2 separate regions of the Homo sapiens genome follow, and region 1 is linked to region 2. The links come from fine-mapping of genetic effects on gene expression. A gene starts in region 2. The other region holds a variant in brackets. All regions are shown on one strand. Distances are from middle to middle.

Region 1 (10,105 bases), 21 kb after region 2:
TTAGGTGGGTGTGGTGGTGCATGCCTGTAATCCCAGATACTTGGGAGGCTGAGGCAGGAGAATTGCTTGAACCCGGGAGGTGGAGGTTGCAGTGAGCCGAGATCGCGCCATTGCACTCCAGCCTGGGCAACAAGAGTGAAACTCCATCTCAAAAAAAAAAAAAAAAAAAAAAAGGAATTCATAGTAGTAACTCAAATAAATGTATTGAGCAATTCCTACAACCCTAAAAAGGGGTTTACATGAATGAAGTCATTTAATCTCACGACTCTATGAGGGATGCAATATCATTGCCCTCATTTATGAGTGAAGCAACCAAGGTTTAGAGAAGCAAGGTAAGGTGCCCAGATTTACACAGTAGGTAAGTGGCAGAAGTAGGATTTGAACCTAGGTGTGCCTGACTCCAGTGCTTATTCTAACAATAGTGCTATACTGTTTAACAAAACTGAGGTATCATCATAACTTTGGCTAGTGCAGTCTATAGGATCCTCAGTTCTGTTTACTTTTTCCCCATCTCAACTTTAAGATTTACCCCTAAAGCCCACTTTTTTTTTTTTTGAGACAGAGTTTCACTCTGTTGCCCAGGCTGGGGTGCAGTGGTGCGACCTTGGCTCACTGCAGCCTTGACCTCCAGGGTGCAAGCAACCCTCCCACCTCAGCCTCCCAAGTAGCTGGGATTACAGGCATGCACCACCACACCCCACTAATTTTTGTAGTTTTTAGGTAGAGACCATGGCAGGGGGATCTCCCTGTGTTGCCCAGGCTGGTCTCAAACTCCTGGGCTCTAGTGATCTCCCTCCTGGCCTCCTAAAGTGGTTGGATTACAGGCATGAGCCACTGCAGCCAGCCCAAAGCCCACTTTTTTAGTCTTAATAACTTCTCACTAAAGTACGCTTTTGGCCAGGTGCGGTGGCTCACGCCTATAATCCCAGCAGTTTGAGAGGCTGAGGTGGGTGGATCGATTGAAGCCAGGAGTTCGAGACCAACCTGACCAACCTGGTAAAACCCCATCTCTACTAAAAATACAAAAATTAGCCCGGTGTGGTGGCATGCACCTGTAATCCCAGCTATTTGGGAGGCTGAGACACGAGAATCACTTGAACCTGGGAGGTGGAGGTTGCAGTAAGCCGAGATCGTGCCACTGCACTCCAGCCTGGGTGAAGAGTGAGACTCCGTCTCAAGAAAAAAGAAGAGTGCTTTTAATGGTTATTCATTCAACCTTCTTCTGGAAGGTTGAAATTCACTGGAATTTCAGACCCTGTACCTATACCCCGCTTTGCGTGGAGTGGTGAAACCACAGGTGGGCCAGCAATGTTGGGTAGCTTTTCTAGGAGCTACAACCTTTAAGATGTTTCAAAACTTCTTCTCATTTGAACCTGCAGGTTCTTGAGAAGGTCCAAGCATTTTCACAAAAGGCCATTATGAAAACACATGTAGAATCTACAGATAAATAGTTTTTTTTGTTTTTTATTTTTGAAATGGAGTCTCACTCTGCCGCCCAGGCTGGAGTGCAGTGGTGCGATCTCAGCTCACTGCAACCTGTGCCTCCTGGGTTCAAGCGATTCTCCTGCCTCAGCCTCCCAAAGTGCTGGGATTACAGGTGTGAGCCACTGTGCCTGGCCAGATAAAGAAATTTAATAAGAGGTAGGTGATGTAGGACTGCTCTTTTTAAGTAGGTACTTATACGTTGAGTTTTTCTTATGTAGGCTATTTCAAGCAGTAATATTTGGGTTGAATACTGGGCTTCACAGATGAAACTTGAGACCGAGAACTTTTGACAAGGACCAGAGAGAACAGCAATGTGAGATATGATGAGAAGTAGAATTATTGTTGAGAAGGCCTGGTACATTTATTATTGACCATGGTAAGCTAATTTAATTATTCCATTGAGCACCAGACAAATGAGAAGAGACAGGACAGAAATTGCTTTGGGAAGGATTAGGTTGGATATTAGGAGAACCATTCTGACAACTAAATATTATTGGACACTGGACTTCATTTTTATTGTCAGAAAAATGGTGGAATCTTTTCTGAAAACATTTAAGTAGAGAACTGGCTGCTCTCTTTCCAGACTGCTTGAAGGTCACCCATTCATTCATTCAACAAACATGTGAGTGTCTGTGGTGTGCTAGACACTGCTGTATGCACTGAGGATACAGCTGTGAAGAAGAAAGAAACTAATTATTGTTGTCTTGAAGGTGGTGGTTGGGAGAGGGAAATAATGAACAAATGGCAAAATAACTTCAGATAATATATGCTATGAAATTATAATGAATAGGGACTGACTACAGGCCTACCTCAGATGTGGTCACAGAAGTCATTTCTGAAGAAGTGATACATGAGGGGAGGCCTGAAAGATAGGAAGGCGCATTAGGCATAGTTCCGAGGAAGAACATTCCAAGTGAAAGAACAGTAAACACAAAGGTCTAGAGGCAGGAGCAAGTTAGGCAGGTTTTTGGAGCCAAAAGATCTGTATGGCTGAATATGGTAAGCAAAGAGGGGAGGGTAGCTGGAGATAAGGTCAGAGAGGTAGAATAAGCTAGATCAGGAAGTGTCTACTAGATGTTTGTTTGTTTGTTTGTTTGTTTATTGAGATAGAGTCTTGCTCTGACACCGAGGCTGGAGTGCAGTGGCATGATCTCGGCTTACTGCAACCTCTGCCTCCTGGGTTCAAGTGATGCTCCTGCCTTGGCCTCCCAAGTAGCTGGAATTACAGGTGCCCGCCACCACGCTCAGCGAATTTTTTTTTTTTTTTTTTTTTGAGACAGAGTCTCGCTGTGTAGCCCAGGCTGGAGTGCAGCGGCGTGATCTCGGCTCACTGCAACTTCCGCCTCCCAGGTTCAAGCGATTCTCCTGCCTCAGCCTCCTGAGTAGCTGGGATTACAGGCATGCACCACTACACCGGCTAATTTTTTTTTGTATTTTAGTAGAGATGGGGTTTCACCATGTTGGCCAGGATGGTCTCGATCTCCTGACCTCATGATCTGCCCACCTCAGCCTCCCAAAGTGCTGGGATTACAGGCATGACCCGCTATACCTGGCCTGTATTTTTTTTTAGTAGAGACGGGGTTTCGCCATGTTGGCCAGGCTGGTCTCGAACTCCTGACCTCAGATGATCTGCCTGCCTCGGCCTCCCAAAGTGCTGGGATTACAGACATGAGCCACCGCTCCTGGCCTCTACCATATATTTGGATTGTATTCTAAGAGCAATTGGAAGCCATAGGAGGGTTTTAAGCAGAAGAGCATCACATCATGATATGCTTTATATTTTAGAAAAAAATATCCTGGATGCTGCGTGAAGAGTGGATTAGAGGAGTGATAGAAAAGAAACAGAGAGGCTGGGCACGGTGTCTCACACCTGTAATCCCAGCACTTTGGGAGGCCAAGGCCGGTGGATCACTTGAGGTCAGGAGTTCAAGACCAGCCTGGCCGACATGGTGAAACCCTGTCTGTAATATAAATACAAAAATTAGCCAGGTGTGGTGGTGCGTGCCTGTAATCCCAGCTGCTCGGGAGGCTGAGGCAGGAGAATCACCTGAACCCAGCAGGCAGAGGTTGCAGTGAGCCAAGGCCTCACTACTGCACTCCAGCCGCGGTGACAGAGTGAGACTCCATTTCAAAAAAAAAGAAAAGCAGAGAGAACCATTTAGGAAGCTAGTGTGGTAGTCCAGGGGAAAGATTTCATTGCGTTTTCTAAAATTTTATTTCATTTTATTTTATTTTTTGAGATGGAGTCTCACTCTCATCCAGGCTGGAGTGCAATGGCACAATCTCGGCTCACTGTAACCTCCTCCTCCTGGGTTCAAGTGATTCTCCTACACCAGCCTCCAGAACAGCTGGGATTACAGGCATGCGCCACCATGCCCAGCTAATTTTTGTATTTTTAGTAGAGACAGGGTTTCACTATATTGGCCAGGCTGGTCTCGAACTCCTGACATCAGCTTATCTCCCCACCTTGGCCTCCCAAAGAGCAGGGATTATAGTGAGACCCCCCATCTCTATTTTAAAAATTTAAAAATAATGAAAATAAATAAAACTGCTGTGAACATTTAGTACAAGTGTTTAATGGATCTATGTCTTCATTTATTTGGGATAAATACTTAGAAATGGAATGGCTGGGTTTATAGTAGGTGTATGCTTAACATTTTAAGAAGCTGCCAAACTTTTCCAAAATGGGTTTTTTTGTTGTTGTTGTTTGTTTGGTTTTTCTTTTAGATGGAGTCTCGCTCTGTCGCCTAGGCTGGAGTGCAGTGGTGTGATCTCAGCTTACTGCAACCTCCACCTCCTGGCTCAAGTGATGCTCTTGCCTCAGCCTCCTGAGTAGCTGGGACTACAGGCGTGTACCACCACACCCAAGTAATTTTTTGTATTTTTAATAGAGACGGGCTTTCACCTTGTTGGCCAGGTTGGTCTCGAACTCCTGATCTCAGATTCACCTGCCTCAATCTCCCGAAGTGTTGGAGTTACAGGCGTGAGCCACCGTGTCCACGCAAGCCCAGGAGTTTGAAACAGCCTGGGCAACATAGTAAGACGCTTTCTGTAAAAAAAAGAAAGGAAGAAAGTTCTGGTTGCTTCCCATTCTTGCCAAAA[C/T]ACTCATCTGGATTATGGCTCTTGTAAGTGTGTAGTAGTATCACTGAGGTTTTAATTTGCATTTCTCTACTGGCTAATGAGGTTGAACATCTTTTTCTGTGCTTATTTGCTATCCATATATCTTTCTTTTTTTTTTTTTTTGAGACGGAGTGTTGCTCTGTCGCCCAGGCTGGAGTGCAGTGGCGTGATCTCGGCTCACTGCAAGCTCCGCCTCCCGGGTTCACGCCATTCTCCTGCCTCAGCCTCCTGAGTAGCTGAGACTACAGGCACCTGCCACCATGCCCAGCTAATTTTTTTTTTTTTTTTCCAGTAGAGATGGGGTTTCACCGTGTTAGCCAGAATGGTCTTCGTCTCCTGACCTCGAGATCCTCCCGCCTCAGCCTCCCAAAGTGCTGGGATTACAGGCTTGAGCCACCGTGCCTGGCTGCTATCCATATATCTTCTTGGGTGAGTTTTCTATTCAAATAGTTTCCCCATTTTAAAAATTGGGTTGTTTGTTTTATTATTACTGAATTTTGAGAGCTCTCTCTATATTCTGGATACAAGTCCTTTATCAGATACAAGACCCCTTTAGGGGTCTGTCAGCTGTCCTGTTGCTTCCTTTGATTTTTCCCATGCAGATGCTGAAATGGTACACTACTTGTGGATATTGAGTTATTTCTGTATTCTCCCAGTCTGTTGCTTGTCTTTTTTCTTTTCTTAACAAACTTCAAAGAGCAAAAGCTCATAATTTTGAGGAATTTTAAGTTATTGGGTTTTTTTTCTTATATGAAATCTTGGGTTGAGCAAAAACTTATTAGATACTATTATGCAGGTTACAAAAGTATTCTCCTGGCTGGGTACAGTGACTTATGCCTGTAATCCCAGCACTTTGGGAGGCTGAGGTGGGTGGATCACTTGAGGTCAGGAGTTCGAGACCAGTCTGACCAATATGGTGAAACCCCATCTCTACTAAAAATACAAAAATTAGCTGGGCATGGTGGTGTGTGCCTGTAATCTCAGCTTCTCAGGAGGCTGAGACAGGAGAATTGCTTGAACCTGGGAGGCAGAGGTTGCAGTGAGCCGAGATCGCAACACTGTACTCCAGCCTGGGCGACAAAGCAAGAGATGAGAAAGGATGTTTTTGGCTGGGCATGGTGGCTTAGGCCTGGAATCCCAGCACTCCTGAGGTGGGAGGATCACTTGATCGCTTGAGCCCAGGAGTTTCAGACCAGCCTGGGAAACATAGTAAGACCTCATCTCTACAAAAAAATTAAAAAAAAAAAATTTCAGAAAGGAAGGATATTTTCTTTTCCTGAATTATAGCACACTCCAGAAAAGCTATGCTGAAAGCACAGCAAATGTAAAAGTAAGGAGCTGAGGTACCAGAAGATCTCATTACATTCTATGAATAGTTATTGAGCACCTGTTACGTGCTTAGGAACTGTTAGGCTCTGGAGAGACAACAGTCAACAGTACACAATTCTTATCCTCAAGGTGATTCCATGGAGTAAACAGGCAATTGGCTGTACAGTGAGAGCACAGAGGAAGGGAGGGGTGCAGTTAGGGGGTGAAGATGGAGATTGCGGCGGTGAGGCAGGTAAAGAGATCTGGGGATGAAGCTGGGAAGACTGGCATGGTGGGGTGCCAATCGCTATTTTCTTCTTCGTTCTCTTTATTAGTTTCTCCTGATTGCTACTGTGAGAGAGTATTTATAGCTGCTGACTCTTCCTGCTTTACATACACTTTGACACATTATTATATCCCTGAGTGTTCTGACAGCTGTGATCATGACTTTCCAATGGTCGATTATGTATCTGACATAGGGGAGCCCAATAAAACCCAGCTAGGAATTAAAGATATTTTTGTATTCTTTTTCTTAAAGAGTGTTCCTTAAATTGTATAAGCTTCAGGACCCATAAAATCTCAATCAGCCCCAAGATATAGAGGATGATCCTGATGCATATTATTCTCTGCATCTTGCACGTTTATTTTTGCAACTAGCTACAGGATACTTTTCTAGAAAATGGGGGTTTGAGTTTTAATCAGTGAAAAAACTTCAGACCATTGAATAAATTTTTAAACTTTTTTTAGTGTAGGTGAAAATAAAAAGCTAAAATTAGGCCAGATGTGGTGGCTCACACCTATAATCCCAGCACTTTGGGAGGCCAAGGCGGGTGGATCATTTGAGGCCAGCAGTTCAAGACCAGCCTGACCAACATGGTAAAATCCCGTATTTACTAAAAATACAAAAATTAGCCGGGCATGGTGGCGGGTGCCTGTAATCCCAGCTACTCAGGAGGCTGAGGCAGGAGAATTGCTTGAACCCAGGAGATGGAGGTTGCAGTGAACCAAGGCTGAGCCACTGCACTCCAGCCTGGGTGACAGAGTGAAACTGTCTTATAAAAATAAAAAGTTGGCCGGGTGCGCTGGCTCACACCTGTAATCCCAGCACTCTGGGAGGCCGAAGTGGGCGGATCACCTGAGGTCAGGAGTTCCAGACCAGCCTGGCCAACATGGTGAAACTCTGTCTCTACTAAAAATAAAACATTAGCTGGGTGTGGTAGCATGCGCCTGTAGTCCCAGCTACTCGGGAGGCTGAGGCAGGAGAATCACTTGATTCTGGGCGACAGAGCGAGATTCTGTCTAAAAGAAAAAAAAGAAAAAAGTTAAAATTCTTAAACTGTTATGCATGAAAGATAGTCGGGACCTCTCCCAGCAATGAGATTAAAGATCTTTCATTGTCCATACGTTGGCTGTTCTTATTTTATCTTCAATATTTGCCACTTTCCCTTTAATCTATTTCTTTTTGGGTTATTTTCTATTTATTTATTTACTTTTTTTGAGACAGGTCTTGCTCTATCTCCCAGGCTGAAGTGCAGCGGCACAACCATAGCTCACTGAAGCTTTGATCTCCTTGGGCTCAGGTGATCCTCTCACCCCAGCCCCCCAAGTGGCTCAGACTACAGGCACATGCCATCATGCTCAGTTAATATACATATATATATATATATATATATATATATATATATATATTTTTTTTTTTTTTTTTTTTTTTTTTTTTTGAGAGAGATGTGGTCTCCCTATGTTGCCCAGGCTGGTCTCGAACTCCTGTGCTCAAGTGATTCTCCCGCCTCAGCCTCCCAAAATGCTGGGATTACAGGTGTAAGCCACCATACCCAGCTCTTTTTTGTTTTTTAAATGTTCCCTGTTTTTTGCCTTCTATTTCTCTCTTTTTTTTTTTGAGACAGAGTTTCACTCTTGTCACCCAGGCTGGAGTACAATCTCGGCTCACTGCAACCTCCGCCTCCTGGGTTCAAGTGATTCTCCCGCTTCAGCTTCCCAAGTAGCTGGGATTACAGGCACGTGCCACCATGCCCAGCAAATTTTTGTATTTTTAGTAAGGACAGGATTTCACCATGTTGGCCAGGCTGGTCTCAAACTCTTGACCTCAGGTGATCCACCCGCCTAGGCCTCCCAAAGTGCTGGGATTACAGGTGTGAGCCACAGCGCCCGGCCTTCACCTCCTATTTTTCTTAAGGCATTATTTGTTGTGCCTATTCACTGTGGTGTTTCTGATAGTTTGTCTTTATTTTTGAAATTATTTTCTTTCTAATTATTTCCTGAGTTCTGTCACTTTATTTCTGCGTTTGTCTGTTTCTGGTTTTTACTATTCTTTTATGTCTTATATCATTTAAAAAGGGTTTTCCAGTTGGTTTCAAAGCAAGAAATTGTAGAGTTTTACTCTGTTTCTAATATGCTTTCATTGCCTGTAGAAACTATTCTGCCTCTTATTCTCCTTTTCCTCATAATAACTTTTATTAGATTTAATCTTGATACTTTTCTGTTGCTTATTTCTATGAGGTTGGCTTCCTGAAATTTTAGGAAATAGGAGTGTAGTGTTTAAAAATATGATGGCTTGCTTTCTGTGACTCTGATATTGTTGCTTTCCTCCCCCGCCTAATCTGAACACCTCTTTTATTGGCCTTTTTTTATCCCAGTCCTGCTTAATTTTGACTCTACATCTGGACGTTTTTCTTCAGTGTGTGGCCATGTCCTGAAATGGGGCCCTGGTTGGTCAGTTTCATGGGTTTCTAGGGGCTGGATTGCTCTAGCCAGACTCATGGGCCCCACACGCACTCACCCACTAATAGGATTAGGCCAAACTCCTCCAGTTCTACCTCTTGTTTTCAGATTGACCCACCTCACTTTCCCGTTGGCTCTTTTGGAGTTCTCCAGTTGGGGGTCTGTCAGCTGTCCTGTTGCTTCCTTTGCTTTTCCCATGCAGATGCTGAAATGGTCCAGAGCTTGTGGGTATTGAGTTTCACCTGCTTGCATATGGGATTCCTAGGGATACCTTGTCACCTAGTTTTGCAAAATGTGGTCCAGGGATTTTGGGTTTGTTATCTAGTTGCTCTCCCAGTTTTGATATGGGAATTTGGAGAGATTAAACAACTGTGCCTTCATCATTGCCATCTATCTAATATCTGTATTTGATTTGGTGGGGAGAAGAGAAAAAATAATATATTCTAGTTGTTTAAAAAAAAATCAGAGGCATGTAAAATAAAAATGGAATGCTGTTCTTTTCCCAGTTCCATTCTCCAGAGGTATTTACTGTTAAGAGTTGAGTATATTTCGGCCGGGAGCAGTGGCTCACGCCTATAATCCCAGCACTTTAGGAGGCTGAGGCAGGCGGATCACCTGAGGTCAGGAGTTCAAGACCAATCTGGCTAACATGGCAAAACCCCGTCTCTACTAAAAATACAAAAATTAGCCAGGCATGGTGGTGCGCACATGTAGTCCCAGCTACTTGGGAGGCTGAGGCAAGACAATCGCTTGAACTCGGGAGGTGAAGGTTGCAGTGAGCCAAGATGGTGCCACTGTACTCCAGCCTGGTGACAGAGTGAGACTCCGTCTCAAAAAAAAAAAAAAAAAAAAAAAAAAAGAGTTGAGTATATTTCCTTCCAAATACTTTTCTATTCTTTTGCTGTTTATGTACTTTTCTATCACTTTGCTGTCTGCATTTTCTTGCAATTTTCTTTTTCCATGTATATATTTTCCAACATACAACAATATATTGGGCACCATCTTTAAGGACTAATATAGTCTGATAGTGTTATTATTTATTACAATTACCAAGTGGATAATTATCTCAGGAAGGAAACAAACTGGTTCTAGTTGCTTTGAAAATAAACATTTATGGCTGGGCGCGGTGGCTCAACGCCTATAATCCCAGCACTTTGTGGGGCAGAGCCAGGCAGATCACCTGAGGTTGGGAGTTCGAGATCAGCCTGACCAACATGGAGAAACCCTGTCTCTACTAAAAACTACAAAATTAAGGGGGCGTGGTGGTGCATGCCTGTAATCCCCGCTACTCGGGAGGCTGAGGCAGGATAATTGCTTAAACTCGGGAGGCGGAGGTTGCGGTGATCCGAGATCATGCCATTGCGCTCCAGCCTGCACAGCAGGAGCAAAACTCCATCTCAAAATAAATAAATAAATAAATAAATAAATAAATAAATAAATAAATAAAACATTT
Region 2 (9,982 bases):
TCTTCACTTGATCATATATGGTTTTTTTTAATCTGTTAGTGGGAAAAATTCAACATGGCAAAAACTTATGACAGAACCCCAGTATGAATTCAGTAATTTTTAAGTGAGTTTGTATTTTATTGTTCATAAAATACACCTAAAAGTAGTAGAACATAGTGTGGAGATCAATAATTTCAGCTTTATGCAATGCTTGGTGAGAATATGGATTCAAAGACCTTCCTCCAATAACTGATTCCTTTGCCAATCAGGAGTCCCACATGTCATCATCAGATGAGATTTCAAGAGCCATAGAAAGGTTACTCTATGAGATGCATGTAGAGGACCAAAAGATGATGTTTTTCAAAAGCTGCCATAAAATCCAATGATTTTAGGTAAATTCTTGCCCTACTGCAGAAGAGAAATGGACCCTGTTTAAATTCCTGCTGCAGACCTTTGGAAAGAAGTAGAGGCGGTGACTTCTGTTGAAGAATGAGAGCAGAGCTATAGTTTACTTCTGTATCCCAGGGCATCCTTCTGATTTGGTGACTGAGTTAGGTGGGGAGAGAGTGAGAAATGAACAGAACTGGGTAAGACCCACTGTCATTATGACATATCATTTGGAGTAAAATGGGGCCAACCAGTTAAGGTAAAACACTTTCTAGGCCTGCTCATTCCAGATGAGTAAGTGCATTGGAAGGAAAATCAAATTGGTTCATCTCTGGCCACCATTATAATCATCATCATCTGCTTGGCTTATCATGCATTCTCATTCTCTATCTTTGGAGCCATAAGGATTAAGACAAACAAATTCAAAGAAAATAATTTTCTCAAGTTACTAAAAGACAGTTCTCCTTGGAAGTGTCCCAACTATAAAAAACTGTGGCAAATACTTTTCAAAGAAATCATCTTGTACTGATTTACCTAGTAAAACTGCATATTATAGGTGAATGTCATCATTATTCTCTCCTTTTCAAGCCCAGGAATTTCTGCTGATGGACTCTTTTAGATAGTAATTTCAGGCAGGCCTACAATTGAACAGCCAAGCAGAAATTGTGGTTCTCTATTTGTTAAATGCTTTTGAGGTCCTTACATAAAAGGTTGATAATGAAGTATTAAGAGAAACATTTCAAAGGCTGTGGTTGGTCAAATTTCTCTGCATGGCATAAAGGGGAAGATGACCTTATGCAAAACCGTGATAGTTTCATTAGAAGCATAATCAACGTTTAATGTTAAATTTAAAAATCACTTTTCAAATGCCACCACAAACAGATTCTTGGTGAAGTACAAATGTTTAATTTAAATTGGGGCTTATAGGAAAAAGCAATTAAAATCTAATTGTATTATAAAGGAGATTTGTACATTTTCTCCTCAAAGTCAGGCAAGGCGAGAAGGGCTCTTAAACCCTGTTTTCTTAAATTAGAACTTTCTTTCACATCTCTTTTTCCTTTTTTCTTTTTGAATCCAGACACTTGAATTTGGACAGACAAGCAACCCAGCCACCTTTCAGTGTGGCTGTGTCAGTATCGGAATGAAATGAACATGACCCCCTCCAGCAGGGAAGGGAACACACAGTAAAGGTATTTTTTATAGAACAATTCTTCACACCGCCCTGGTGACTAGGGAAGGGAATCTCGTGTTTCTCTTTTGCTGATACTGAATCAGCTGAAGAATACCATGAACATCAGTAGAAATGCTCTGAAATAGTCTCCTCTCCCTTTTGTCTTTTTGTTCTCATGAGGGGGAGAGAAGAGAGACCTTTTTTTTAACATTGAAATATTTAATTAAAATGCCAATTAAAAATGGACTAATTGGTGGTTCTGCTTATAATCAGAAATGTTGCAAATTATTGTATTAACTTGCAAATAGTTTTATGAAGTTGGCATACTTCCTATCAACACTCCTATAAAGACGGCTACACTCATTTATGATAAAAATGTATTTTCAATTCTCAAAGGAAGCTTATCTCAGCAAAGAAATTTCTTTTCCTGCTTCCTCAACAGTTTATGTAGCAATTGGATTTATATCTTTGTTAAATAGATGGTCAAAATGAGAGCTGATGAAGAGAGAGACTGAGCTCATATCTGAACTGGAGAGAAACTCCGAACACCCTAGCAACCTGCATTCTGTATGTTATTGTGTACTGGTGTATTTGCTAATGAACAGTTGCATGTATAGATAGTTTATGTGGTTTCCAAGAGCTAAATGAGAATGGTGATGATATTCTTTAGCATTTGTGTTTATAATTTACAAAGCACTTTCATATACGTTATCTGATTTTCTGAACAATTTAGAAATATTTGTAAATTGAACAAATTAAATAAATTTCTCGAGACGTTTAGATTTCTAAAATATCTGGTTTCAAACATGTTTGTTAACCCAATGCCTGCTTAGTGGTTCAAATAAAATTTTTTATGTCTAGGAAATGATAATTTGAGCAATTACTTAGAATATCCTGAAAAAAAAAATAAAGTCAGAAAGTACAAAGTAAGATCCCATTGAATTTTGTCTCCAGACTTTACCTCAAGATCAGATTCAACACACGGTAGAACTTGCTTTGAACTACCTTCCTCCTCTCTACAATGCTGACATCAGGATTTCGTGAAAAGGGCTGCTGTCCATTTACCCCCAAATCACTTTGGGGGAATATTTGTGGAATAGCAATTTATAAAAATAGGAACCCCCGCTCCCATCATTTAGTCCTTTATTGGTAGGGGTCCTAAAGATTCACTAAAATCAGCCATAAATTTAGGAAGAGCCCTACCCCATAGAACAGTTTTTCCTAGGAGAGCTATCAAGGCTTCCTACATTTCTGGAAATGAAATGAGCTTTACCCAACACATTACATACACTTACCTATTCCCAGCTCCAGGTAAGAGTCCAGGTTACTTACCAGCTGTGGCTGAGTTGGAGGACACAGGTGAAAAGACAGATGTACACAGAAGGCTTTGAAAGAAACATAATCCTCTGGAGTAACAGCTAGAGAAAATTCCAAAAAACTGGGAGATGGGTAAGCAAGACGGAGAAATATTCTCCTCAGTGCCAGTGGGATGGAATTCTCAAAGCCCAACTTCCTTGGTGTGTAAGCGATCCCAAACAGAGTTAAGGGGAGGTGAAATGGAGCTGCCAAACGTCCAAAGAAGAGATTATCTACTTAATTAAAGTTTTTTTTCCCCTCTAAGTCCTTCAGCCAATCAGAACTCAAGTGCCAGAGAAAGATTGAGTCGATCAAAAGAACACTCCAGGATCCTCCCAGACAAATGCAGAAGAAGGGGACCAGGAGAAAGAGGACAAAGAAAGAAGCGGGGGGAAGAGACATAGCAAATCCCCTCCACATAATCACTGCATGGAGTCTCTTTCCTCCCTCTTGCCTATCCCCTCCCATCACACCACAACCTTTTCCCACCTATGCACACTTACACACACACACACACACACAACACACACACACACACAGCCTGGTCCCCAAAAGGGATCCAGAAAGGACTGTGCTTTCCTGGTTGTCCTCTGTAGCACTTTGAGACTGAATTTGCATTCAGGATAGCATTTTTTTGTTTGTTTTGTTTTTTCAGAAAAAAATACACCAGGTGCAGGTGAACCTCCACCCTCTGATTTGAGAATGTGGGGATGCAGTCCTACCATCTAGTGTATTCTCTGTCTAAGTTAGAAAGGCTAGAAACTTCAGGAAGCCCGATGGTTTTTTCTTCCTTTCAACTTTTTCATCACACAATTACTTACCAAATGCCTATTTTATTCTCAACACCACCCTAGGCATTGTGGAAATTTTTAAAAACCAAAACATGATTTCTGCCCTAACAACATTTACAGCCTAGTAAGGTGACAATAAAATAACGCAGTTTAATAAAGTATTAGAAAGCTACAAACTGCCTATAATAGTGTAGGCTTATTTAGGGGAGGTTTTCTGAAGAAGGTAGAATTTGAGTTTCGAAGAAGGAAAGAGATTTCAATAGGCACACAAAGGTGATCTCAAAATCCCTACTTTCTTAAACTCAGGTGGCGGAGCCAGGAGGGCACCCAGGCCCTCGCTCACACTTCTCTGGGACTCTGCTCCTTCTGTTCCCTAGGGAGGAGGGTGGCCTCAGCCACAGCACTGGGGATCCTCAAAGGGCTCCAGACTGATGTCTATGTAGCCATATAGCCCCATCTTTTAAAAAAAATTTCAGTTAACTTTTGTGGATACATAGTAGGTATATATATTTATGGAGTACATGTACATGAGATATTTTGATACAGGCATACAATGAATGCATGATAATCACATCAGGGTAAATGAGTATCCATCACCTCAAGCATTAATCCTTTGTGTTACAAACAGTCTAATTATACTCTTAGTTACCATGTACAATGAAATTATTATTGACGATAGTCACCCTGTTGTGCTGTTGAATACTAGGTCTTCTTCATTCTTTCTAACTATTTTCACACCTTCTACTTTAGCATCCGCATCACCTTTCTTAAGGTCTCCCTGAGACAATGGTCTTTGTTCTTTTCTTTTAACCTTGTTCCTCTTGCTCCAAAACCCTCTCTGGCTAGACTGAACCAGAAAATAAAGAATTAATACACAAATTCACTTTCTCCATTACCTAGGCCAGACGATTTAGGGGGTCTTCACCTCAGTATCTTAACTGTGTAATTTTGTTGTCCACATGGAATCTTCTAGACCAAGTCTTTATTTGGGGCTCCAAACCTTATTGTGAGATGAGCTTGGTCAGTTGTGGCTCCTACACAAACAACTTTAGGTCCTCCTCTCTCTTCATTCAGAAAGGGAGCAGTAGAGTCTATTTCAGGCCAAGAGTCAGGTTCTAGGAAGATAAGGAGCAATGACTCCTGGATTTCAGCCTTGACTTCTTCCCTGACCACAGTTTTTGCCATTTACTTGACTAGAGAACTCCTAAGGGATGCAAAAATTCATTGGGAGGTAGAGCAGATTTGGGCAGTTTTTGTGTAAAAAGGGAGAGCTAATTTAAAATGAGTTCATTGAGGCACTGTCCTATCCCCTTAGAATTTCTTCCACAAAGGAGAAAGTTAAGACTTTTATTGTTTGTTTATCTATCTGTCTGTCTGTCTGTCTGTCTGTCTGTCTGTCTGTCTATCTATCTATCTATCTATCTATCTATCTATCTATCTATCTATCTATCTATTTATTTTTAGAGACAGGGTCTCGCTATTCTGTCCAGGCTGGTCTCATACTCCTGGCTTGGCGAGATCATCCAGCCTTGGTCTCCCAATGTGCTGGGATTACAGGCGTGAGCCACCACGCCTGGCCTACTTTTATTGTTTTGCACAAAATTAATACATTCTTATAATAAAAACTTAAACATGACAGAGATAAATAGTGCAAATCCCCTTTGATGACCTGCCTTCTCCCCTCTAGGATAACAGCAGTTAAGTTTTAGATGGTCTTTCAAGAGGTTTTATATGCATATGTAAATATGTATATAAACATTTTCCACAAAAATGAGATTATATAAATTATATTTTGCAAATTGCTTTTCTCATTTAGTAATATGCAACTTTCTTTTTTAAATTTTTTTAATTTTAAATTTTTTTTATTATACTTTAAGTTCTAGGGTACATGTGCACAACATGCAGGTTTGTTACATATGTATACATGTGCCATGTTGGTGTGCTGTACCCGTTAACTCGTCATTTACATTAAGTATATCTCCCAATGCTATCCCTCCCCCCTCCCCCAACCCCACAACAGGCCCTGGTGTGTGATGTTCCCCACGCTGTGTCCAAGTGTTCTCATTGTTCAATTCCCACCTATGTGTGAGAACACATGGTGTTTGGTTTTCTGTCCTTGCGATAGTTTGCTCAGAATGATGGTTTCTAGCTTTATCCATGTCCCTATAGAGGACATGAACTAATCCTTTTTTATGACTGCATAGTATTCCATGGTGTATATGTGCCACATTTTCTTAATCCAGTCTATCATTGATGGACATTTGGGTTGGTTCCAAGTCTTTGCTGTTGTGAATAGTCTTTATAGCAGAATAATCTTTTGAGTATATGCCCAGTAATGGGATGGCTGGGTCAAATGGTATTTCTAGTTCTAGATCCTTGAGGAATCACCACACTGTCTTCCACAATGGTCGAACTAGTTTACAGTCCCACCAACAGTGTAAAAGCGTTCCTATTTCTCCACACCCTCTCCAATGCCTGTTGTTTCCTGACTTTTTAATGATCGCCATTCTAACTGGTGTGAGATGGTACCTCATTGTGGTTTTGATTTGCATTTCTCTGATGGCCAGTGATGATGAGCGTTTTTTCATGTGTCTGTTGGCTGCATAAATGTCTTCTTTAGAGAAGTGCCTGTTCATATCCTTTACCCACTTTTTGATGGGGTTGTTTGATTTTTTCTTGTAAATTTGTTTAAGTTCTTTGTAGATTCTGGATATTAGCCCTTTGTCAGATGGGTAGACTGTAAAATCTTTCTCTCATTCTGTAGGTTGCCTGTTCACTCTGATGGTAGTTTCTTTTGCTGTGCAGAAGCTCTTTAGTTTAATTAGATCCCATTTGTCAATTTTGGCTTTTGTTGCCATTGCTTTTGGTGTTTTAGTCATGAAGTCCTTGCCCATGCCTATGGCCTGAATGGTATTGCCTAGGTTTTCTTCTAGGGTTTTTATGGTTTTAGGTCTAACATTTAAGTCTTTAACCCATCTTGAATTAACTTTTTTTATAAGGTGTAAGGAAGGGATCCAGTTTCAGCTTTCTACATATGGCTAGCCAGTTTTCCTAGCACCATTTTTAAATAGGGAATCCTTTCCCCATTTCTTGTTTTTGTCAGGTTTGTCAAAGATCAGATGGTTGTAGATATGTGGCATTATTTCTGAGGCCTCTGTTCTGTTCCATTGGTCTATATCTCTGTTTTGGTACCAGTACCATGCTGTTTTGGTTACTGTAGCCTTGTAGTATAGTTTGAAGTCAGGTAGCGTGATGCTCCAGCTTTGTTCTTTTGGCTTAGGATTGTCTTGGCAATGCGGGCTCTTTTTTGGTTCCATATGAACTTTAAAGTAGTTTTTTCCAATTCTGTGAAGAAAGTCATTGGTAGTTTGATGGGGATGGCATTGAATCTATAAATTACCTTGGGCAGTATGGCCATTTTCACGATATTGATTTTTCCTATCCAAGAGCATGGAATGTTCTTCCATTTGTTTGTGTCCTCTTTTGTTTTGTTGAGCAGTGGTTTGTAGTTCTCCTTGAAGAGGTCCTTCACTTCCCTTGTAAGTTGGGTTCCTAGGTATTTTATTCTCTTTGAAGCAATTGTGAGTGGGAGTTCACTCATGATTTGGCTCTCTGTTTGTCTGTTATTGGCGTATAGGAATGCTTGTGATTTTCGCACATTGATTTTGTATCCTGAGACTTTGCTGAAGTTGCTTACCAGCTTAAGGAGATTTTGGGCTGAGACGATGGGGTTTTCTAAATATACAATCATGTCATCTGCAAACAGGGACAATTTGACTTCCTCTTTTCCTAATTGAATACCCTTTATTTCTTTCTCTTGCCTGATTGCCCTGGCCAGAACTTCCAACACTATGTTGACTAGGAGTGGTGAGAGAGGGCATCCCTGTCTTATGCCAGTTTTCAAAGGGAATGCTTCCAGTTTTTGCCCATTCGGTATGATATTGGCTGTGGATGTGTCATAAATAGCTCTTATTATTTTGAGATACGTCCCATCAATACCTAGTTTATTGAGAGTTTTTAGCATGAAGGGCTGTTGAATTTTGTTGAAGGCCTTTTCTGCATCTATTGAGATAATCATGTGATTTTTGTATTTGGTTCTGTTTATATGATGGATTACATTTATTGATTTGCATATGTTGAACCAGCCTTGCATCCCAGGGATGAAGCCAACTTGATCGTGGTGGATAAGCTTTTTGATGTGGTGCTGGATTCGGTTTGCCAGTATTTTATTGAGGATTTTTGCGTCGGTGTTCACCAGGGATATTGGTCTAAAATTCTCTTTTTTTGTTGTGTCTCTGCCAGGCTTTGGTATCAGGATGATGTTGGCCTCATAAAATGAATTAGGGAGGATTCCCTCTTTTTCTATTGATTGGAATAGTTTCAGAAGGAATGGTACCAACTCTTCTTTGTACCTCTGGTAGAATTTGGCTGTGAATCCGTCTGGTCCTGGACTGTTTTTTGGTTGGTAGGCTATTAATTGTCTCAATTTCAGAACCTGTTATTGGTCTATTCAGGGATTCAATTTCTTCCTGGTTTAGTCTTGGGAGGGTGTATGTGTCCAGGAATTTATCCATTTCTTCTAGATTTTCTAGTTTATTTGTGTAGAGATATTTATAATATTCTCTGATGGTAGTTTGTATTTCTGTGGGATCGGTAGTGATATCCCGTTTATCATTTTTTATTGCGTCTATTTGATTCTTCTCTCTTTTCTTCTTTATTAGTCTTGCTAGCGGTCTATCAATTTTGTTGATCTTTTCAAAAAACCAGCTCCTGGATTCATTGATTTTTTTGAAGGGTTTTTTGTGTCTCTATTTCCTTCAGTTCTGCTCTGATCTTAGTTATTTCTTGCCTTCTGCCAGCTTTTGAATGTGTTTGCTCTTGCTTCTCTAGTTCTTTTAATTGTGATGTTAGGGTGTCAATTTTAGATCTTTCCTGCTTTCTCTTGTGGGCATTTAGTGCTACAAATTTCCCTCTGCACACTGCTTTGAATGTGTCCCAGAGATTCTGGTATGTTGTGTCTTTGTTCTCGTTGGTTTCAAAGAACACCTTTATTTCTGCCTTCATTTTGTTATGTACCCAGTAGTCATTCAGAAGCAGGTTGTTCAGTTTCCATGTAGTTGAGCGGTTTTGAGTGAGTTTCTTAATCCTGAGTTCTAGTTTGATTGCACTGTGGTCTGAGAGACAGTTTGTTATAATTTCTGTTCTTTTACATTTGCTGAGGAGTGCTTTACTTCCAACTATGTGGTCAATTTTGGAATAAGTGTGATGTGGTGCTGAGAAGAATGTATAATGTCTATTCTGTTGATTTGGGGTGGAGAGGTCTGCTCGGTGCGGAGCTGAGTTCAATTCCTTGATATCCTTGTTAACTTTCTGTCTCGTTGATCTGTCTAATGTTGACAGTGGGGTGTTAAAATCTCCCATTATTATTGTGTGGGAGTCTAAGTCTCTTTGTAGGTCTCTAAGGACTTGCTTTATGAATCTGGGTGCTCTGTATTGGGTGCAATATATATAAATATATTTAGGATAGTTAGCTCTTCTTGTTGAATTGATCCCTTTACCATTATGTAATGGCCTTCTTTGTCTCTTTTGATCTTTGTTGGTTTAAAGTCTGTTTTATCAGAGACTAGGATTGCAACCCCTGCTTTTTTTTTGTTTTCCATTTGCTTGGTAGATCTTCCTCCATCCCTTCATTTTGAGCCTATGTGTGTCTCTACACGTGAGATGGGTCTCCTGAATATAGCACACTGATGGGTCTTGACTCTTTATTCAATTTGCCAGTCTGTGTCTTTTAATTGGAGCATTTAGCCCATTTATGTTTAAGGTTAATATTGTTATGTGTGAATTTGATCCTGTCATTATGAAGTTAGCTGGCTATTTTGCTCGTTAGTTGATGCAGTTTCTTCCTAGCACTGATGGTCTTTACAATTTGGCATGTTTTTGTAGTGGCTGGTACTGGTTGTTCCTTTCCATGTTTAGTGCTTCCTTCAGGAGCTTTTGTAAGGCAGGCCTGGTGGGGACAAAATCTCTCAGCATTTGCTTGTCTGTAAAGGATTTTATTTCTCCTTCACTTATGAAGCTTAGTTTGGCTGGATATGAAATTTCTGGGTTGAAAATTCTTTTCTTTAAGAATGTTGAATATTGGCCCCCACTCTCTTCTGGCTTGTAGAGTTTCTGCCGAGAGATCCGCTGTTAGACTGATGGGCTTCCCTTTGTGGGTAACCCGACCTTTCTCTCTGGCTGCCCTTAACATTTTTTCCTTCATTTCAACTTTGGTGAATCTGACAATTATGTGTCTTGG

What was found. PIP is the estimated chance that this variant, and not a neighbour inherited with it, causes the effect.
Region 1: its variant is fine-mapped to the expression of WNT8B in whole blood (TOPMed, PIP 0.97).

Annotation. Positions count from the first base shown.
Region 1 is chr10:100,435,077-100,445,181 of GRCh38, reverse strand. No RefSeq gene overlaps it. Among named protein-coding and RNA genes, the nearest start is that of WNT8B, 23 kb to the left of the region's middle. The variant C/T (reference allele first, on the strand shown) is at 4,588.
Region 2 is chr10:100,456,124-100,466,105 of GRCh38, reverse strand. WNT8B (Wnt family member 8B) reads right to left here and starts at 3,097. Exons shown (of 6, transcript NM_003393.4): 1 at 2,870-3,097. The coding sequence starts at 2,937.